Linked DNA regions of Homo sapiens. The protein of the gene in region 1 purifies or fractionates together with the protein of each later gene. This does not show direct contact. Each region holds a gene or a part of one and is shown in the gene's direction. Other genes may lie near its edges. The genes, in order: BCKDHB and DBT.

Region 1 (11,883 bases):
CGAGGAAGGGGAAGAAGGAATAACTCACATGCTGGATGGGACAGCTGGCTTAGACCAGGGGTTGGCTTAAAATAATGTTGATTGAAACACTGTCTCTGGCACATGCAAGGCTCTCAGTACACACTAGTGAATAGTAGAATCAGAATTCTTAAAATTAGAAGTACGCTAAACCACCTGTAAATGAAGCATAAATCCTCCCAAGAGGCTCCCTCAATAGTGTTCATCCATTTCGTGCTTGACTATTTCAGTAATAGAGAATTCATTACTTCCCATGACAGTCTACTTAATAAGAAGCTCTTTATATTACACTAGAATTTGCTTCTTCCTGTTTCTTATTCTTCCCTCCGGAGCTAAATAGTAAATTTAACCCCTCTACAAGGGAGCCCATCAAACTTTGAGGGAGAGTTAATACATCACTTTTAAAATCTTATCTAGACCAAATATCTCTAGATTTTTAACCCTTCTCCAAATGACTTTAGGTCATATTTGAAGAAATCCACAAAACACTTTATAAAAACTCTTTAACCATGTAAACATCCTCCTAATAGTTTATCAAAAGCATCCATAGTTTATCAAAAGCATTCATCCAGTTAGCTTCTGTTCCTGCAACCAAGTCTCTGACTGTTATGCCCCTGTCCCCTGAAAGATATGTTGAGCTTGACACTCCCCTACCCCCAAACCCAGTACCTAACCCCTGGCCCTCAGAATTTAAGCTTATTTGGAAATAGGGTCATGGCAGATGTAATTGATTAAGTTAAGATGAGGTTAGATTGGAGCAGTGTGGGCTTCTAATCCAATATGACTGGTGTCCTTATAAAACGATAGCTGTGCAAAGATATGGAGACGGCATGTGGTAACAAACGCACATACTGGATTTATGCAACTGCAAGCCAAGGGATGACAAAGAATTCCAGAGAACCAACAAAAGGGAAAAGAAGAATTTTCCTACAGGTTTCAGAGGGCGCATGGTCCCACTGACACCTTGATCTTGGACTTGATCAGAATCGCAGACAATACGTTCCTGCAACCAGTTTGTGCTGCTTTGTGACAGCATCCCTAGGAAACAAATACATTGGCTTTGAGTATATTCTGGACTTTCTTTTGATTCCAACAGGATCATTCCACTTAGTAATTCAGTGAAGTAAGGAAAATCAGGGAGCTTTTCCATTATCCCGAGTCCTTAGTTGAAACCGATTTCATATGAACAGAGTCTGTGAACTAATACACTGGATGTTAAACATGCTGTAGGGGGAATGAATCTCTTCATCAACATATTTAGATGGGCAAATATAACTTTATTTTTCTGTAATTTAATTTTTAAATAATAGTGCTACTGATATATAATTTACATATCATGAAATTCATCCTTTTAATGTACAATTCACTGGTTTTTAGCATAGAGCAAAGTTGTGCAACCATCAACATTACTTAATTTTAGAACATTTTCATCACTCAAAAAATAAACTTTAGGCCGGGCGCGGTGGCTCACGCCTGTAATCCCAGCACTTTGGGAGGCGGAGGCGGGCGGATCACGAGGTCAGGAGATCGAGACCATCCCGGCTAAAACGGTGAAACCCCGTCTCTACTAAAAATACAAAAAATTAGCCGGGCGTAGTGGCGGGCGCCTGTAGTCCCAGCTACTTGGGAGGCTGAGGCAGGAGAATGGCGTGAACCCGGGAGGCGGAGCTTGCAGTGAGCCGAGATCCCGCCACTGCACTCCAGCCTGGGCGACAGAGCGAGACTCCGTCTCAAAATAAATAAATAAATAAATAAATAAATAAATAAATAAACAAACTTTATATCCATTAGCAGTCATTCCCTACCTCCTGTCTCTGTTGATTTGTCTATTCTGGACTTTTTATAAATGTAATTGTATAATATATAGTATTTTAAACTGGCTTCTTTCACTTAGCGTAATGTTTTCAAAGTTCATCCATGTAACACTACTTAATTACTCTTTATTGACAGATAATATTCTATTTACAGATATATCAGTTTTGTTTAACCATTCATCATTTCATGGGTATTTGGATTGTTTCCACTTTTTTGCTATTATGAATAGTGCAGCTACGAATATTTGTGTACTAGCTTTGGTGAATACACCTTTTCATTTTTCTTTGTTATATACTTAGGAGTGGAATTGCTGGGTCATAAGATAATTATGTTTAAAAAAACAAAAAAGGAAGAGAAATAGAAGAACAAAATTAAAAAGATAACTGTGTTTAACATTTTGCGGAACTGTTTTCCATAGCAGCTGCATCATTTTACAGTCCCACCAGTGATGCACAATGGTTCCAGTTGCTATACAGCCTCACCAACACATGTTATAGATTTCTTTTTATTTTAATCATCCTAGTGGATATGAAGTGGTATCTCATTGTGGTTTTGATTTGTATTTCTTTAATGACTATTGATGTTGAGAATCTTTTCTTATGTTCATTGGCCACTTGCATATCTTCTTTGGAGAAATGTCATTCAAATCCTTTGTCCATTTCTTTAAATAGGCTATGTTTTTTAGAGCAGTGTTAGGTTCACAAAAAATTTGAGAGGAGGGTACAGAGAATGTCCATATGCTTTCCCCAAATACAGAGCTTCCTTAATCATCAACATTTGCACTGCAGTGGCACATTTGTCACCATCAAGGAACCTACATTAACACACAGTTGTCAACCAAAGCCCATAGTTTACATTAGGGTTCACTCTTGGTGGTGTACGTTCTATGCATTTGGACGAATGTATAATGACATATTTATATGTCCACCATTATAATATCATACAGAATATTTTTCCTACCCTAAGAATCCTCTGTGATTTTCCATTTATCCCTTCCTGCTCCCAACCCTTGCAACCCCTCATCTCTTTTATTCTCTCCATAATTTTGCCTTTTCCAGAATGTCATATAGATGGATTCATATAGTATGTAGCCTTTTTAGATTGGCTTCTTTCACTTAGTCATATAAATTTAAACTTCTTCCATGTCTTCTGATGGTTAAATATTTTTTTTTCTTTTTTTTCTTTTTTTTGAGAGTCTCACTCTGTTGCCCAGGCTGGAGCACAGTTGCGTGATCTGGGCCCACTGCAACCTCTGCCTTCTGGGTTCAAGCGATTCTCCTGCCTCAGCCTCCTGAATAGCTGGGACTACAGGTGCACACCACCACGCCCAGCTAATTTTTGTATTTTTAGTAGAGACGGGGTTTCACCATGTTGACCAGGCTAGTCTCAAATTCCTGACCTCAGGTGATCCGCCCGCCTCGGCCTCCCAAAGTGCTGGGATTACAGGCATGAGCCACCACACCCAGCTTAATATTTCTTTTTAGTGCTGAATAATATTCCATTAAGTTTATTTGGTTGCTTCCAAGTTTGGGCAATTATGAATAAAGCTGCTGTAAATATTCTGCACAGGTTTTAATGTGGACATACATTTTTAGCTTATTTGGGCAAATACCAAGCAGCACTACTGCTGGATTTCATGGTGAGAATATGTTAGTTTTATAAAAAACTAAACTGTGTTGCAAAGTGGCTATACCATTTTGCATTGCCACAATCAATGAATGAGAATTCTTTGCCCATTTTCTAATTGGGTAATTTTTCTTTTCTATTGTTGCGTTTAAGACTTTCAATCAGTATATTCTAGACACAAGTCCTTATCATTCTGATTGCTGGGTCTCCTCAAGTTCCCTGGATCTTGTTGCCATAGCTGCATCTCTCTTGGCCACATGGGAGAAGCATCCTGCTGTTTCAAATGCCATGACATGCTGGGTAGCCTGAGGATTTAGTGATACTTTTCTAGGTTCATCTACAAAGGAGGATACCTACAGGTCTTTCTAATCTATAGCTGTACCTCCATGGAAGGTGAGACAAACCATCTCTTATACTGGTATGTGATTTACAATCTTTTCTTTTAGCCCTAAGCTTTGTTTCCTAACTCATTCAGGTTTTTGAGGTTTAATACTCAGAAACCAGTCTGTAGAATTCAAACTTTTCTCTCAAATTATTGTCTCTGCTATCAAGTTTAAAATCTATTTTAAAATTCAAAAGCAATAATTTGATTTCTTTTTTTTCTGCCTCCATGATACCTCTGTTTGAGTTTGAAAGGAGGCAGATGCCAGGATGTAATACTGCAAAACTATCATCTTGCTATATAAAATGGTCGTCTAAAAGCAAGCTGAGACTAAACAGGTACAAGTTGCACAGGTAGTGAAGCTCAGTGAGAGCAAGTGATGCAAGAGTCATTCTGAAGGGTGAAGAGCAACTTTGCTTTGTATTCCAACTCCATAGTCATGGGTTCTGCAATTGGAAATAGCTTAAACAAAGAGGGGAATACATTTTAAGGATACGGTGATGTCTCATAGAACCCCAGGACCAGAAAGCAGTTAGGCCTTGGGAATAAATGGAATCAGGAACTCAAATATAATCACACTCTTCACCTTTTCTGGTTCACGAAATTACTGAAAACTCCCATTTTTTGCAGTTCCTAGTGGCATTTAAAGATAATCTGATCTTTCTTTCTAAACTACACTTCCAAAATTCCCAGAAAAGGACAGTTTCCCAAATTGAGTAAATGTGGCCAGGGCAAGGGGAATGGAGGAAAGTCCCACTGTAATAACATAGACATTTTCATGGTTACCAGGCAAATGGTGTGGTAGAGATGGGGAAAATTTAAAAAATCAGTTTGCAAAACAGGTGAATCTGGCAGGTGCTCTGTTTGTTTTTCCTGGCTGCATGTAGTTGAAAGTTCAAACCTCTTAGACCTTCAAAATCTCCCTTTAATCTGTTTTTCCTACTTTTTCTGTTAACCCTGTATCATTCCCTACACCCTGAATCTAGAAGCACCAAGCTATTTTCTCTTCCTGGAATGCACTGTGCTCTTCATGCCTATCAGCCTTTATACAGGTTTCTTCTTAGTTTGGAATGCCATTTTCTCCCTAGTCTGCCTGGTAACTTCTAGTCATCTTTTAGGTCTAGCTCAGAGTTATATCTGGAAACACTTGACTTTCAAATAAGAGTTTATTGCTCTTTTTGTGTTTCACTTTGTTTGCACTATTCTAGGACTCCTATCACATTGGATTGTAGTTGCCTAATCTGTCTCTTTTCTCTACCACCTTGGACATTTTAGAAGTAAAACTATGCCTTGATCTTATTTGTCTCAATGGTGGCTTGTCATTGGGTTGTACGTAGCAGAGGTTCAATAAAATTCTCATCAGTTATTATTTTTCTCTTTTTCTCCCCGACCTAAATAATCTCAGTACCCCCAGCTCCCTAAACTATCAACAAATAGAAAAAAAGCTCTATTCATTTTTATCCTTGTTCTTTACTCTCCTTAGTTTAAACCCAAATTTGACTATGTAAATGTAATTTCATTTTGTTACCCCTTCCTTCATTAAAACAAAAATACCCTTCATGCACATGCAAAACACTCTACCCCACACTATTAAAACAGCAGAAATGAACACTAACAAAAGCCAAGATAAAAAATTTCCCCAATGTTGAATTTTTGGACTTAGTGTGGGGGTAGGAAAAATGGAGACATAATTCTGGTTCTCCCTTTGGCAGTTTTCAATTGCTGTTTCTTAATCTCAGTCAGAAAACACATTTCTCTGCCTCTCCTTTTGCCCCATTTCTACCCTCTCCTCCCTTGCCCCTGTGCAAAACCAAAGATGGGTTAAGAGGCAAGGCATAATGGAAGAGGAATGTTCTTTTCCTCCACTCCCACTTTCTTCTTCAAATTCTGTTTTGGGACCATCCTTCCCCACCCTCCCATTTTCATCTGATGGACACACTGTCTCTGTTGTCTCTTGTCATATTTGATTTTATGATATTTCATGTTTTATGTGCTTTTTTTTTTTTTTAGTAAATTCATGGACAGAGAATGTATCCTGGTAAACACTTAGATTAAAACAAATTTACATAGTTGATTACTATAAATGAAAATTAGTGACTCAAATTCTCCAGGTTTCTAAGCTACTTAGACTAAGCCAATCAGGTAATTTTTGCTACTTCTGGGCAAAATGTATCTGAATTCCTATTCAGTGGATTTGCAGGATGAAATCTAAGTTTACCTCTTTCATCTCTCATTTAAATGTGGAAAAACGAAATCAATAAAAATCTATATATGCTTATTAAGCATTTTAAGGAGGGTGTGAATAAGGAGTGAAAGCTTTGAGCAGTGACTACAGCAGTTTTTCGAAAGTCAAAACAATAACCAATGCCAATCAGTAGCTCTCTTCACCTCTCACACAATAATAGAGACAGGACAGGATAAAAAAGGGTTACATTTAAAAAAAAGTATGGATGTTAAACCATTGGAAATGGCACTGTAAATGACACCGGAAAAGATCGCCTCCAGGCACTGTGTGGAACTTTGCAAACTCGGGTCCTCACCCGAGGACCGCACGGCCGACCTCGGGGAGGCTCCACCCCAGAAACTATTTCATTGGCGCCACCTCTAGCCCACACTTCCCCTCTTCCGCATGCGCACAAGGAGCAGAAGCCGACCAGCTCGTCACGTCGCCTTCCCCGCCCCTAAATTTCCAGTTCCGATTGGTCTGTTTCATGGGACCGCCCCTCTGGCCCGACCAATGTGGAAGCCTCCTCGGGTGCTCCGCCCTCCCCGCAGGCGGCGTGCGGCTGCATAGCCTGAGAATCCCGGTGGTGAGCGGGGATGGCGGTTGTAGCGGCGGCTGCCGGCTGGCTACTCAGGCTCAGGGCGGCAGGGGCTGAGGGGCACTGGCGTCGGCTTCCTGGCGCGGGGCTGGCGCGGGGCTTTTTGCACCCCGCCGCGACTGTCGAGGATGCGGCCCAGAGGCGGCAGGTGGCTCATTTTACTTTCCAGCCAGATCCGGAGCCCCGGGAGTACGGTGAGCCCTGGGACTGCCCACTCGGTCCCGCTGCAGCCCGGACTCCCAGGCTCGCAGGCGCCCGCGAGGGGCAGGGGCCGGCAGGCTGCAATCCTTGCATCCCAGCTTATTAACTTCCTGACTCTCTGGAACCTCCTTGCCTCAGGGTCTAACTGTGGTTCACTTCTTGCTCTATTTTTGTGACTGTTCAGCCCTCGAGACGCAGTCCCCCCTCCCCCGCAACTTTGAGATGGGTGAGAGGGCATACTGCCACCTGGAAGAGCCTGAGGGTGGAGGGGTGGTGCCCAGGGAACGCCTCCCTTTTCTCTGTCCTCCGTCCTTGCTTTCTCAACCCAGGCCTTAGGTGTTGTTCCAGCCTGGCCAGGACTGGGCCACTAGCTTAGGTAGAGGCATTTAAAAGATATATATATATGTTTATATATATATATTTTAAATGTATATTATATATATTATATATAAAATATATATATGTATATAAAATCAATTCAGTTACTCAGTCCCTTGGTTTCTTCTTACATACAGAAATTGTGTGTATGTGTGTGTGTGTGTGTGTGTGTATATATCCACACACATATATATATGTGTGGATATATATACGCGCATATATATGCATATATATGTGCGCATATATATATATATGCATATATATATATGCACACATATATATGCATATATATATGCATATATGTATATATGTCCCTTGGTTTCTTCTTACCTACAGAATTCTGAGTAATTGAACTGATTTTCCCAAGGTCACAGAACAGGTCCTTCCTAGAGATGTGAAAGAATTCAGACTTTCTACTTGAGCTTAGTACTGAGCTTGTCCTGGGCTATGCTGCCACTTAGCCAAGGAGGTGAAGGGGATGAGAGGAGGAAGCCATAGGAAGGGCATGTAGCAAACTCCTCATAGTATGACTGTTGCATGATTTTTACCATTTCTGCAAGTTTCATGTAATGTCTCTCATCAGAATATCAGATCCAGTGTCTCTCTTCAGAATATCAGGAAACTGTAGGGAAACATGTATTGCTTCCTTGTCTAATAACTTCTCATGTGCATGCTAGAGCTGACATTTTTGGAAGTGTGTCTTGTGGATAAGAATGAACAGTTATTGAGTGCTTACCAGGGTCAGGTGCTGTGTGTATGTTTCATCATCTCATTTAAGGGTTAGGACAACCTTAAAAGGTTAGTAAAGTTTTTATTCCCATTTTGCAGTTAGGTTAATGGAGTCTTGAGACAGTTTGACCAAGATTACACAGGTAAGTTAGTGGTAGCTCCAAAGCTCCAGCTTTGGAATCTAATTGATCAGATTCCAGAGCTTCCATTCTAAACAATGTACTAAGATGCGTGTAGATATAATTTACTTGGAGGGCGTCCCAGTATTGTGAAACAGTAGGTACCATAAAGGTTAATAGTAGGTGTTTTTTTTTTTTTTTCCACCACCAAGATGAGCCCTCAATTCTGTCTTCAAAGCAAATTCTGTCTTCAAAGCAAAGAAATTTTGGTCTAATACTTGAGAAATAGTCCAACTTTCCATAGTTGTAAACTTACTAAAATCTAAGTAAAATGATATCATGTTATCATGATATATATCATGATATATATAAACTTGTTCTTATTTTAAAAATAATACAAACATATTAACAGATAATTTGGATAATGGATAAAAAGTAAAAAAAAAAAAAAAAAATCTGCCGGGCGCAGTGGCTCACGTCTGTAATCCCAGCACTTTGGGAGGCGGAGGCAGGCGGATCACCAGGTCAAGAGATCGAGACCATCCTGGCCAACATGGTGAAACCCGGTCTCTACCAAAAATACAAAAATTAGCTGGGCGTGGCAGCGCATGCCTGTAGTCCCAGCTACTCGGGAGGCTGAGGGAGGAGAATCGCTTGAACCTGGGAGGCAGAGGTTGCAGTGAGCTGATATCGTGCCACTGCACTCCAGCCTGGTGACAGAGCAAGACTCTGTCTCAAAAAAACCCCAAAAAACCAAAAAACAAAAATCACCACCCACTGCAGTAAATATTGCTAACATTTTGGGTGTATCCTTACAGGTATTTCCTTTTAGTTTCGTATTTTCCATACTTTTAGTTTTAATACAAATACAACTTATTTAGTCGGAAGAATTATCCTACAATTCACTGGAGTTTTTATAACCTTCTTGAGAATTTAGAAGAACTGTTCCATGGAGTAGAGATGCTACAAGTCTTTTACAAGTTAAATTCTTGACCCCGGAATCAGATTGTCCTAAGTTTGATCTTGCCTTGGCTGTCTATAACTTTGGAGTTACTACTTATCCTCTGTAAGCCTCAGTTTCTTTATATGTAAGGGGTTAATAATAATACCTACTTCAGAAGGTTGTTGTGAGGGCTACATAAAACAATGTCTATAATATACTTAACACTGTTTGACAACTGAGAATCAAGCATTCAGTCAATAAGTGGAACCTTTAAATAATTACCATTATGTTTTTGTTGTTAAAATTTTGCAATTTTGTAAATAATGCAGATACAAGCATTTCATGCATATGGGTTTTATGTATCTGAGATTATTTCTTTAGGATAGAGTCCTGAATACTTTAATGGATTTTAAGTGCATAGTTCAAATTTATACCCATTTATACCCCATAATATGTATAATAGTGTGAGTATTGGATATTAATGCTAAAATTAGGTGTGTTCATGTACACTCTTGGATATTTTGTGCTAACTGTACTTTGTTTTAATTTTTGTTTCATTTCTGTTGAGGAATATTTTCCCATGTTTTTGTTAAATTGATTTATTTTTACTTAAGAATTGAATATTAGATGTATTTACATATTTTTAAAAGTATACTCAGTATTTTTCCTATCAATACTATCTACGATTATTGCATAGCTGCTCTTTTCCAGGTGTTGTGTTAGACATCAGTTTATAATCCTCACAGTAACCTTGTGAACTAGACAATATTATGCTCATTTTAAAGATGAGAAAATTGAGGCTCAGAAATGTTAGTACTTACCCAAGTCTGGTAAGTAGCAGAGCCAGAGTTTGAATCCTGATGTGTCTTACTCCAAAGCCTCCCACACTACTTATATACTAAGATTTTGTCTGTTAAAAAATATTGAAGAACATACTAACTTTCTGCTTTTCACATGTCCTGCAAATACTTTTCACTCTTTTATTTTGGTTGTTTTGACATATAAAAGGTACTGCTTAAAAGGAGGTAGTCAGATTAGACTCTGAGTTGGTGACACTTATGCTGCTTTATGCTGGCATGTTTGCTCCCTTTATTACACTGTGTTGTTCTCTGAGAACAGTTCATCCTGGCTTCTCCATGCCCCTGATTCTTGGGCATTGTATGGATGTGAGTTTGTTTATTCAGTCATTCTCTGCATTTTTATTTTCTCCTGGATGCCATACTCTCTGCTAGCTGCTAAGGATGTGATCATGGACCTGTCGGAGGGTAATCTGAACCTTCGTTTTGGACACTTGGTATCCCCTATCTGCCAGGAAATTCAAACTTTTTGTAGTTTTTTCATCCAGGATTTGGCTATACACAAGGAGGTCATCCATATACTGGAGTATACTCCCATTTCTTAATTAATTGCAGACCCCTCAGATTCCTCTCTAAGGCCCAGGCAAAGCAATGGGGGCTATCCTGAAAACCCTGAGGGAGAACTGTCCAAGTGTATTATTGTTTTTCTCTGGCATTAGGATTTTCCCATTCAAAGGCAAAAAGGTATTGGGATTCTGGGGCCAGAGGAATGGAAAATGAAGCATCTTCTAGGTCTAGGACTGAGAACCATTTAGCATCCCTTGGCACCTGAGCCAGGAGGGTATATGGATCTGCCACCAATGGGTGGACCTACCAGTGGGTCTTAAGAGCCCAGGGGTAAGTAATACCTTAGCTGTGGATGCTTGGCCTTTCCTTGCTTCCAGCTTAATTGGGTATTGTTTTTGATTGGGAAAATAAATAGCTAGGGGTCTTTAAGCTGTATTTTGGCTGGCACTGCTGTTTTAGCCTTCCTTGGTTTTCCAGTATACCATGCCAGTGTGTTAACCTGTTTATTAATGTGGTCTGGGACAGTGTCTGTATTTTTGACTATTAGCAATTTCACCAGATGATGCTTAAATTGTAGTAGTGCCCCTATTTTAACCATAATATCTCTTTTTAACAGGGGGCCTGGGCAGCTTGATACTACTAGAAATTACTGTTGGAAGATTTGTTTCTCAATTTGACAAATCAAAGGAGGAATAAAGGATCTTACTTGTGGCTTTCCTTCCATTCCCATAATGGTCGTGGACTGGGAGGAAAGTTTTCCTACATAAGTAGTAAGGAAAGAAACTGAATTTGTATTGAAAAGAAACTGAATTTGGGTGCCCATGACGTCCAGAGTTACCTGGGGGCTCCTCAGTAGTAATTACGATGTTCCTGAACAGGGGCAGTGAGGAAGACCCTGGGTCGCTTCAGTCTTCATCTAATTTCTCTTTTGCACTGCTAGAGTTTTGCCTTATTGAACCCCTTGGTGGGAGCAGGGCCAGTCAATCTTCCAGTGCCAGGGGTTGTAACTGATGCTCTCGCATTTTTGGCAGGGGACTGGCAGGGGCTTAATATAGTCCTTTATCCAATTCTCGTTTTTCTTGCATTTGAAGCAAGAGTCTTTGTTGTGCAGATTATCAGAGGCAAGCCAAATCAACCAAATTCCAAGTGGCTGGTGTGCTCCATCAATTCCTGCAGGCCTGAAATAGGTAGCCTAGGAATTCCAAATAAATAGAACACATGATGACTTGTTGGAAATTCGCAGGAAACAAAATAACTATTCTCAGAACCAAATAAAAGCCTTCCACTAGAAACTAAAAAATGTCTATGGTTTTATATATATGCATACACAAGTAAAACCCAAAGGAGAACAAATAGCAAACAAATGAAAATTAGAAGCAAAAACAAATAGACAGGAAACCATCTCTAAATTTTTCCTACTTAGTCTACCCGGGGGGCTACAGTGTTACCCAGAGCCCCCCAGAAAACCACATAATGAATATTTTAT
Region 2 (11,442 bases), on another chromosome or scaffold:
CTAAAGGGCTCTGACTTTGGCCCTCTGCACTTTTCCCACTTTCTGGGTTATCCCATCCACTCTTTGGCTTTAGTTACCATCTATGCTGATGAGTCCTAAAGTTCCCCAGTCTTCCAACCAGGTCTACTCCAAACCCATATATCCTACTGTCCTGGAAATCTCCAGTTTCATATGTACGTGATGTTTTCCAGCTGCAATTAAAAACCCAACCAATAAATAGGAAATTAAGTATCCATGCATACAGAGCATCCCCAATTAGATGTCAGCTCACATTAAGTGGCTTATGATTATCAATGTCGTCATTTCCCTAGTAGTTCATTTGTCCTTTTCCTACTGTATACAAGAGGGCTGCTACGACTTCTTCTTTTATGTTGAAGGCAGGAAGGTGGAAGAGGAGGAGGTTCCAGTCTCACTGGCCAGAACTGTGTTACATGGCCCCGGCTAGCACAAGGGAGCTTAGAAAAACTTGTCTTTTTTTTTTTTTTTTTTGAAATGGAGTCTCTCTCTGTCACCCAGGCTGGAGTACAGTGGTGCGATCTTGGCTCACTGCAACCCCTGCCTCCCAGTTTCAAGCGATTCTTTTGCCTCAGCCTCCCAAATATCTGGGACTACAGGCACACGCCACCATGCCCAGCTAATTTTTGTATTTTTAGTAGAGACGAGGTTTCACCATGATGGCCAGGCTGGTCTCAAACTCCTGACCTCAAGTGATCCGCCTGCCTTGGCCTCCCAAAGTGCTGGGATTACAGGATGAGCCACCATGCCCAGCAGAAAAGCTTGTCTTTAGTCTTCTCACAGTGTCTGCCGTAAAGCTTCAAAGCAGGTCAGACTCTCCAGCCTCTAGAACTGAACCCTCAAACCAGTTTCTCTTAATTTTTTTTTTTTTTTTTTTTGAGAAGAGTCTTGATCTGTTGCCCAGGCTGGAGTGCAGTGGTGCAATCTCGGCTTACTGCAACCTCCACCTCCTGGGTTCAAGTGATTTTCCTGCCTCAGCCTCCCAAGTAGCTGGCACTACAGGCGCGAACCACCATGCCTGGCTAATTTTTGTATTTTTAGTAGAGACGGGGTTTTGCCATGTTGGCCAGGCTGGTCTTGAATTCCTGACCTCAGGTGATCCTCCTGCCTTGGCCTCCCAAAGTGCTGGGATTACAGGCGTAAGCCACTGCCCCTGGCCCAGTTTCTCTTGATTTGAGCCTGTAATTCTCTCTGAAGAAATCTAGTCATGATTTTTCCACCCTGCCCTCAACTGGAGGTGTCTTGGCCCTTCTTAACTGGATTATATGCCTCCAGTGGTCTTGTAGTTTTTCCAACCCATTCTCCATAGTGTAGCCAGAGTGATCTTATAAAGTAAGAGACATTTGATAATATCATTTTCTTGTTTAAAACTGCCTTCAGCAAAATGTCCAAAATTCAAATGACTATGAGGCAATTTATGATCTGGACCTTTCCAGTCTCTTAGATCTCATTCCTTACCAAAACCTACCCATCCCAACCCCAACTCTGACACTTCCCCACCCTTATTCCACACTAAACTACACTAGAAGTCTGTTGAACAACTTGAGTTATTTGCACACACACTGTGCTTTCTGTCTCAACTCCAGACCTTTGCACATGTATTTCCTCTGCTTTAAAGACTCTTGCCTTACTCCACTGTGGCCTTATCTGCAACATACCTCATCCCCGGGGTTACACCTACTCATCCGTCAGGTCTTACTTCAACATAACTTTCTCCAGCTAGGTTCCCTTAACACACTCTATTTCCTTCATTATAGCACGTGTTATAATCACCGGTTTACTTGTCTTTACCTTTCACTGTACTGTGCATTCTATAAGGGAAGAAATTGCATCTGTTTTGTTCTCTGTATAATCCCAAGTGCCTGGCACATTGTAGGTGTGCATAAATATTTTTTAAATGACTCAGTAAAAAAAAAAGTCAGGTTTGTAAACTCTTCTAAAAAGTTGTAAGCAAAAACAGTTCTTACCCCCGTAGTAAATTATTAAAATAGCCTTATAATGTTGTGTTTTACATTTCCCTAGGACATAATGCATTTGACTCTTGATTAATCATGCCATTTGGAATTTTTCTGTTGTGTCTGTCTTCCTGTAGTAAAGTGTAAGCAATTTGAATTCAGGAACTATATATTGCATCTTATTTAGCTTTGCATTTCCAAGTCCAGTACAATGTCTGACTTTAGGAGTGCTCAACAGCTGCCTATTGAATTATTATTAAATATTTCCTTAATACGCTACTTTGGTGAACAGTTTCATTTCCCTTTATGTTCTTCTGTCCTGGTTGTGATATTGAATTATTAATTTTTTATTTTTATTTTTTTTGAGACGGCGTCTCACTCTGTCACCAGGCTGGAGTGCAGTGGTGCAATCTCAGCTCACTGCAACCTCCGCCTCCCGGGTTCAAGCGATTCTCCTGCCTCAGCCTCCCAAGTAACTGGGCAGGCACGCGCCACCATGCCCAGCTAATTTTTGTATTTTTAATAGAGACGGGGTTTCGCTGTGTTGGCCAGGATGGTCTTGATCTCTTGACCTCGTGATCCACCTGCCTCAGTCTCCCAAAGTGCTGGGATTACAGGCATGAGCCACTGCACCTGGCCTAATTTTTTATTTTATTTATTATTATTTTTGAGACAAGTTCTTGCTCTGTTGCCCAGGCTGGAGTGTGGTGGCATGATCTTGGCTCACTGCAGTCTTGACCTCCTGGGCTCAAGTGGTCCTCCTTCCTCAGCCTCCCAAGTAGCTGGGACTACAGGCATTCACCACCACAGCCAACTAATTATTTTGATTTTTAGTAGACAAAGTCTCAATGCATTGCCCAGTATGGTCTTGAACTCCTGGGCTCCAGTGATCCTTCTGCTTTGGACTCCCAAAATGTTGGGATTACAGGCATGAGTCACTGCACCTGGCTGAATTATTTTTAAAATCAAGGAAAGACCTATTTTAGTCAAATAATTGCATTAAGACTTAGACTACACGTATAGTTGTTCAACCAGGATGTATTTGAGAATGAAAATGGTGTTATTAATAATTGCCTTGAATCACTAGAGGTGAATTGGGTGTCACCTCAGGCAAATTGGTACAGATGGTCCCCATAGAACTAGGTGTCTTTAGTATTGTTCATAGATGAATTTAGAATTGCTTCAAATATAAAATATATAAAACTGATAATTCCATAAGCATGCCTTTTTAAAATTGGAGGTTTAAAGCCTTATGCTTAATTTACTAGTCTAGCTGGGTGTGGTGGCTCACACCTGTAATCCTAGCATTCTGGGAGACTGAGACAGGAGGATTGCTTCAGCCCAGGAGTTTAAGACCATCCTGGGCAAAAAAGTGAGACCCTGTCTTTATTTTATTATTATTATTATTATTTGAGATGGGATTACAGGTGTGAGCCACTGCACCCAGCCAACCCTGTCTTTGAAGAAAATTAAAAAATATAATTTACTAGTCTAATAGTCTGTTTCTAGAAAAAAAATTTAGAATTCTAGCTTGAAAAATTATTTCTTCTCCTCTTTCCTGTTGCCTGTTAATCCATCTATTCAGCAACTTCACAGTGTTTTTAGCCTTCTCCTCAGAGCCATTCAATTACTATTATATTAATCATATACTGCCTATGGTACTTTTGTTGCTTTTTTTCTTTTTCTACTATTAATTACCTCAGTCAGGAGCCTGTTGCTTTGTGTCTCAAATACTATACAGTACTCTCCCCTTCTTATCTGTGGTCTCAGTTAGCCATGATCTACTGTAGTCTGAAAATAGGTGAGCACAGTACAGTAAGATATTTTGAGAGAGAGACCACATTCACAAAACCTTTATTACAGTATATTATTATAATTTTTCTATTTTATTATCAGTTATTATTATTACTGTCTTACTGTGTCTGATTTATAAATTAAACTTTATCATAGGTATGTATATATAGGAAAAACACGGTATATGTAGAATATGTAGGATTCAGTACTGTCCATGGTTTTAGGCACCCACCGGGGGATCTTGAACGTGTCCACTGCACATAAGGAGATAAGAGAGGAATACGGTAATAGTTATTTTTTTAAAAAAATCCTTTTTTGATAATTTTGGTATGTAATAGTTTCTTGACTTCTCCCTTTCTCTCCAGATTTTATCTGTTATAATCTATTCAATAAACCACTACTAATTTCCTAATCCTTTTTCTTCAATAACCCATAATGTATGAGTTCAAACTCCTTATACTGACATTATAGTCATCAACCATTTCCTCCTTGAGCTGTTTCCATTGCTCTCTTTTATACCTTTGGTCAAGCCAAATCAAGCCGCTCAATGTCCCAGCAGATATGCTAAGTCAATTTCTGCTGTAGTTTATTTATGCTGTTTCCTCTGCCTTAAAAGTGCCCTTCTGCTCTTTTATTATGTATGCTTATTATGCACAGTGCAGCTTAAATCTTCCTCCAAGAAGCCTTCCCAGGTCACACTAACGTGAAAAAAAAGCCCACCAGACCCCTCTACTTAAACTCCTTTTTTTTTTTTTTTTTTTTTGAGATAGAATTTTGCTCTTGTTGCCTAGGCTGGAGTGCAATGAGATTACAGCTATGAACCACTGTGCCCGGCCTGCTTAAACTCCTTTATCACGTACTGCCTATGTCTCTTTTTTTTTTTTTTCGTAAACCTATGGACTATATTAAAGAAGCCTATGCCTCTTATTACAAAAAGTTAGAGCATGCATGTCCATGCTTGAGTGTGTTTGTATGTGTGTTTATTTTCTCACATACGTTGTAAACTCTTTGAAATTAGGGATTATTTCTCCTATTTCTAGGGTCTTTGACATCAAATTTATTTAGCTTCAGAGCTCGATTGTTCCACTTATTTGCTGTGTGACCTTGGACAAATTACTTCACCTTTCCCATCAGTTTCCCGTGTGTTGAAGAGGGCTAACGTGTATGTTCCACAGGGAAATTGTAAATGTAAAGATGATGTCTGGGCCGGGCACCATGGCTCATGGCCTGTAATCCTAGTACTTTGAGAGGCCAAGGTGGGCGGATTGCCTGAGCTGAGGAGGTCGAGAGCACCCTGGGCAACATAATGAAACCCCGTCTCTACTAAAATACACACAAAAAAAGTTTAGCTGGACATGATGGCACATGCCTGTAGTCCCAGCTACTTGGGAGGCTGAGGCACGAGAATCGCATGAACCTGGGAGGCGGAGGTTGCAGTAAGCTGAGATCGTGCCACTGCACTCCAGCCTGGGTGACAGAGTGAAACTCCATCTCAAAAAAAAAAGAAAAAAAGATGATGTCTAAAAAGGCTATTTTTCTTTTTTTCTTTCTTTTTTTTTTTTTTTTGGAGACAAGGTCTCTCTGTCACCTAGGCTGAAGTGCAGTGGTGTGATCTTGGCTCATTGCAACCTCCGCCTCCCAGGTTCAAGTGATTCTTGTGCCTCAGCCTCCCAAGTAGCTGGGACTACGTGTGCCACCATGTCCAGCTGATTTTTGTATTTTTAGTAGAGAGGGGGTCTCGTCATGTTGACCAGGCTGGTCTCAAACTCTTGACCTCAAGCAATCCACTCACCTCAGCCTCCCAAAGTGATGGGATTACAGGCCAGAGCCACCATGCCTGGCCTGTCTGAAAAGAAAGTACTCAGCACATGGGAGGCACTCAATAAATGTTAAGCGTGGTGGTTTATGCTGCCCCGACCCATGAATAGTTCAATACGAGTTGTGTTGTTGTTGAAGGTAAGACCTTCTAGTAGTTTAATTTTCTTTCAAATGTTTTACAAATATGAACAATTTTATTTAAATTAAGGTGAATCTATATACTTCAAAACTTTCCTTTATTGTCCCTAAGTTTTATGTCTGATGAAACAGAGGTTGATTCACTCCTTTGATTTTATTGTTGACCAAGAGTCAGGATTATGGGAGCTGAAGGAGAAAGCAAGGACAAACAAAATGGAAATGTTTGGGAAAGAGAATTCTTTTATTGTCTTCTGGTTTTAAGTTATCAATTTTAATTATTTTAGTTAGGCTTTATATTTCCTGAATATTAATGTTAGTAAAAATAAAATGTTGATATTATAAAGACTAGTCGATTTAGGGTGATCTCTAAAGTTAAGATGAATGATTTAAGATTATTTATGTTTTAGGAAAGGGATCTTCAGTTTTTCTTTGCCTTCAGAAATCAGTAATAGTTTGAAATTTAAAGTAAAAAAATAAGAATTTAAATGTATTGTTCTTGTCAGTAAACCAAACTTTTACTTTTATATTTGCTATCAGAAAAAAACAAAAATTCTAGTTTATAAATATGTATTAAAACATGACTGTACTATATGATGTTTATTATAACATAGCCTTTAAAAGTTAAGAGCTAATCACCACTAATGTACATGATTTTTTTTTTTAAGTAAAAGTGACTCTGTTACATACATGAAAAAGTTTCACTTATCAGTATTCTTATACTAAGAAGGTTAGAAATTTCTGCAGAGAAGTAAGCTCAGGGCTTTAAAATTAAATAAGTAAATAAATTCTGTAGTTTATGTTTACAGTATGATGTAGTTAAGTATTAATAGCATTGAAATTTTTTTTTTTTTGAGATGGAGTCTTGCTCTGTCACCAGGCTGGAGTGCAGTGGCTCGATCCCGGCTCACTGCAACCTCTGCCTCCCGCATTCAAGCGATTCTCCTGCCTCAGCCTCCCAAGTAGCTGGGACTACAGGCGCATGCCACCAAGCCCAGCTAATTCTTTTGTATTGTTAGTAGAGACAGGGTTTCACCATATCGGCCAGGCTGGTCTCTTTAACTCCCTACCTCGTGATCTGCCCACCTTGGCCTCCCAAAGTGCTGGGATTACAGGCGTGAGCCACCGCGCCTGGCCTAATGGCATTGAAATATTAACTTTCCAAATAAGATATTATGGCCTGGCATGGTGGCTCGCACCTGTAATTCTAGCACTTTGGGAGGCTGAGGTGGGAGGATTGCTTGAGCTCAGGACTTCAAGTCCAGCCTGGGCAACATACTGAGACCTTGTCTCTACAAATAATAAACAAAATTAATTGGGTGGGGTAGCATGCGCCTGTGGTCCCAGATACTTGGAAGGCTGAGGCAGGAGGACCCCTTGAGCCTAGAAGGTCAAGGCTTCAGTGAACTGTGATCGCACCACTGCACTCCAGCCTGGGCAACAGAGTGAGACCATGTCTCAAATACACACACACACACACACACACACACACACACACACACACACAATACCTTTCAGACACTTAGGTTTTGATATATAGAGTTGAATACATTTGGGCCTACTTATTTCTATAAGAGATTTTAAAATAATATTATACTAAGGTACTATGTAAAATAGTTAATTCTAAAGAGTCATCTATAAGTTACTATAAGTAAACTTTGGGGTATCATACTATACAAGTTTTTCATTGTTTTTAGATGCTAACTATTACTTTAGAATTCTTTAGTAGTTTTAGTTCAGGAAGTCCAATGACTTAAGCATACCTATAAGCTGATGTATTTATACAGAATACACTGTTAAAATGTCTTTACTTTCAGAAGGAATTTTGGGTAAGGATCATAAATGTAACAAATCTAAATCTAAGGATATAATATTTCTATTGTGACAATGGTTCTACTTTTAGAATGGAATTGAAATTCAATTTATACTTAGAGATAAGCCGGTATGGTTGTTTATAAATGCTTTTACTTTTTGTTTTCTCATCTGTAGATTTGTGTTCGCTATTTTCAAACATGTGGTAATGTTCATGTTTTGAAGCCAAATTATGTGTGTTTCTTTGGTTATCCTTCATTCAAGTATAGTCATCCACATCACTTCCTGAAAACAACTGCTGGTAAGTATGATTTCAAAATAACGTGTATAAAATAATGTTTTGTACCTCATTCAGTAATATTTTTTAGTAGTTGATTGAGACTTTTTAAACAAAAAAAAGTTGACTCTGTATTTCTAGCCGGGCCCTTCCCATCTCCCCACATTTTTCCAGTTCTCACTTTCTTTTTTCTCATCCCTCTCTTTTACATACTTTCCTTAACACTGGCACCCCTTTTTAAAAAAAATTTTTTTTTAGAGACAGGATCTCACTCAGTTGCCCAGATTGGAGTGCAGTGGTGTAATCACAGCTCACTATAACCTGAACTCCTGGGCTCAAGTGATCCTTCTGCCTCAGCTTCTCAAAGAGCTGGGATTACAGGCATTAACTTATCTCGCCCAGCACTTGTGTCTTTATAATATTGGGAATGGGTTGTGTTGGGCCATCTATTTATCATCTGGCTCATCTAAGTGCAATAGTCAGCATTGATATGACTTTCTCAGTCAAGGTAAATTGTTGACTTAATAGAGGTGTCTTTGTGTTGGCATACACATTGTGGTATTGTTTGTTGAAAGAAGCACTTAATCTGTCAAGTGAACATGGTGTGATGAAACCAGCCTGATTTAGTACTAAATAGAAAGTTCCCTGACTTTCACCATTTACTTACTTTTTCCCCAGCTTTTTCTACCCTCTGTAAAGAACTTGAAGGATTAAGTATTAGATTTGGCAAGGGCACAAGAACTGTTTTTTTTCCTGATGTTCTATTTAGAACCCTGATAAAGAACCCTAGACTTTTGTTACACTATTAAGTTTTTGACAGATACATGGGAGCTTAGTTTGTGCTGGGAATGAAAAATGGGGGAATTCCAGGCAGACCCCAAGTCAGCCTTTCCATGCTCTTTTTTTTTTTTTTTTTTTTTTTTTTTTTTTTTTGAGCTCTGTTGCTCAGGCTGGAGTGCAGTGGCACAATCATAGCTCACTGTAACCTCAAACTCATGGGCTCAAATGATCCTCCTGCCTCAACCTCCTGAGTAGCTGGGACTACAGGTGTGCATCACTACACCTGGCTAATTTATTTATTTATCAGGATGTTGTCACAGTGCCCAGGCTGGTCTAAAACTCCTGGATTCAAGAGATCCTCCTGCCTCTGCCTCCCGAAGGGCTGGGATTACAGGCATGAGCCCTGCACCGGCCTTCCATGCCTTTTCTTTTGCTTTCTTTTTTTTTTTTGAGACAGGGTCTCACCTCTCAAAGTGATGGGATTACAGGTGTGAGCCACTGTTCCCAGCCATCTTCCATGTTTTTTCTATGTCATCCTCCACTATAGCCTAAGACATGTAAACTTTACCTTCACTACTTTTACAAAAATTTCCATTTTTTAAAGTTGATCTTTTTTTGTTACTTCCCAGAGAAAATAGAGGTCATTCAAGTAAATACTTCAACTTCCTGGTCCAGTCTGTAAACACTTAGGAACTTTGGGTTGCTGGATACACCAGTTCCAGGCTACTTGGATTCCTGGTCTACAAATTACTAGCAGTGTAACTTTAAGCAAGTTTCACCATCTGGGAAATGGGAGTAATCATAGTATTTAGCTAATTGTATTCTTGTGAGAATTCATTCATTCAACAATTAATATTTATTGATCACCTGTGTTCCAAGGCACTGCTCTAGGTGCTTGGGATATATCAGTACACAAAACAAAGATCCTTATACTTGGGTGGATTAAATAAATTAGAATATATAAAGTACTTACATACTCTAATACTGCTTAGATATACTAATACTGCTTACATATACTAATACTGCTTTCTCTGGATACTTATTAAGGTTTCTCTTCTTCTGCTTCTCTTTTAAACTTCAGTTTTTCATAGGATCCCATCCTTTGCCCTCTCTTCTTGTACTACATCTACACACATGCCTTCAACTCTCACCTCATTGAAGACTTGTGAATCTGTAGCTGTAGCTCACATCTCTCACCAACTCCATTCCAATGTCCCCAAAACTCAGTCTTCTACAAATCTCTTTTCCTTCTGATATTTCCTAACTCAGTAAGTCATTAAGCTAGACTAGCCTAGCTTAACCATTGATATGAGACCCTGCCTCTACAAAAAATTTTAAAAAGTCAGCTGAGCATGGTGGTCCACACCTGTAGTCCCAGCCACTCAGGAGTCTGAGGTAGGAGGATCACCTGAGCCCCAGAGTTTGAGGCTGCAGTGAGCTGTGATCATGCCACTGCCCTCCAGCCTGGGCAACAGAGTTAGGCCATGTCTAAGAAGAAAAGAAAAGAAGAGAAGAGAAGAAAAGAGAAGAAGGAGGAGGAGAAGGAGAAGGAAGGAAGGGGAGGGGAGGGGAAATAAAAGAAAGAAGAAGAGAAGGAGGAGGAGGAAGAGGAGGAAGGGACGGGACTGGAAGGGACGTGATGAGACAGGACGGGAAGGGAAGGGATGGGGAGGGGAGGGGAGGGAAGCTAGAAACCTAGAGCCATCAGGAGGGAGGGAAGAATCAAGGAAAGGAAGGGAGGAAAGGAAGGGAGGAAAGGAAGTGAGGGAAGGAAGGGAGGAAAGGAAGCGAGGGAGGAAGGAGGGAAGGAAGGAAGGAGGGAAGGAAGGAAGCGAGGGAGGAAGGAGGGAAAGAAGGAAGGAGGGAAGGAAGGAAGGAAACCTAGAGTCATCTTGAGGGAGGGAGGGAGGAAGGAAAGCTAGAAACCTGGAGTCATCCTGACTCTAGTCTCACATCAAACTGATTATCAAAACCTATTAATTTTACATCTTACATTTTTCTTAAATCTGCCTTCTTTTCAAATGGCTTTGAAAAGTATATAAATATATAAATCACATACTTCTGTGCTGGGCAGAGTGGCTCACACCTGTAATCCCAGCACTTTGGGAAGCTGAGGCAGGAGGCTTGCTTGAGGCCAGGAGTTCAAGACCAGCCTGGGCCACAGAAAAGTGAGACCTCACCTCTATAAAAAATTTTTTTTAATTACTTGGGTGTGGTGGTATGGACTTGTAGTCAGCTGCTAGTCCTAGCTGAGGTGGGAGGATCACTTGAGCCCAGGAACTTGAAGTTATCATGAGCTGATTGTGCCACTGCACTCCAGCCTGGGCAACAGAGTGAGACCCTGTCTCTAAAAAAATAATAAATTAATAAATTCTATACTTCTGCTTCTTACCTGAAGTAGCCTCCTGCTTCCCCTGCCTTGTTTTGCCTCTGCCACCCACTCCCCGACCCCATCTACCACACTCCTGCCAGAGAAATTTTTTCTAAACTTGTAGACCTAAAGTTGCAGATCTGATATTATAAATAGGATTCCATATCAGTTAATTACTGCTGAGTAACAAACAATCCCACAACTTAGTGGCTTAAAGCAACAAGGACTGATCATTTCTCAGGATTCTGCAGGTTGGCTGGGTGATTTCCTTGCTGGTTACGCCCAGGCTCCCTAATATGGCTGTATTCAGCTAGAGGATCATATGGGCTGGAAAGTCCAAGATGGTCTCACTCATGTGTCTGACCATTCATGCTGGGTTTCCGATGGGGCAACTCATTTCTCCTTTTCCTGATGTCTCATCCTCCAGTAGACTAGATCAACTTCCTTGCATGAGGATTTTAGGGCAGCATTCCAAAAGGGAGAAG

Evidence for each region.
Region 2: the proteins of BCKDHB (region 1) and DBT purify together in Homo sapiens (affinity purification with mass spectrometry; 2 studies listed by BioGRID and IntAct, with this or other methods). This does not show direct contact.

What each region holds. Positions count from the first base shown.
Region 1 is NC_000006.12:80,100,033-80,111,915, forward strand, and holds the start of BCKDHB (2-oxoisovalerate dehydrogenase subunit beta, mitochondrial isoform 1 precursor), read left to right. Parts: upstream 1-6,638; 5' UTR 6,639-6,661; coding exon 6,662-6,857; intron 6,858-11,883. UniProt on the Homo sapiens protein: Together with BCKDHA forms the heterotetrameric E1 subunit of the mitochondrial branched-chain alpha-ketoacid dehydrogenase (BCKD) complex.
Region 2 is NC_000001.11:100,237,149-100,248,590, reverse strand, and holds part of DBT (lipoamide acyltransferase component of branched-chain alpha-keto acid dehydrogenase complex, mitochondrial isoform 1 precursor), read left to right. Parts: intron 1-3,988; exon of another isoform or gene 3,989-4,048; intron 4,049-7,706; coding exon 7,707-7,830; intron 7,831-11,442. UniProt on the Homo sapiens protein: The branched-chain alpha-keto dehydrogenase complex catalyzes the overall conversion of alpha-keto acids to acyl-CoA and CO(2).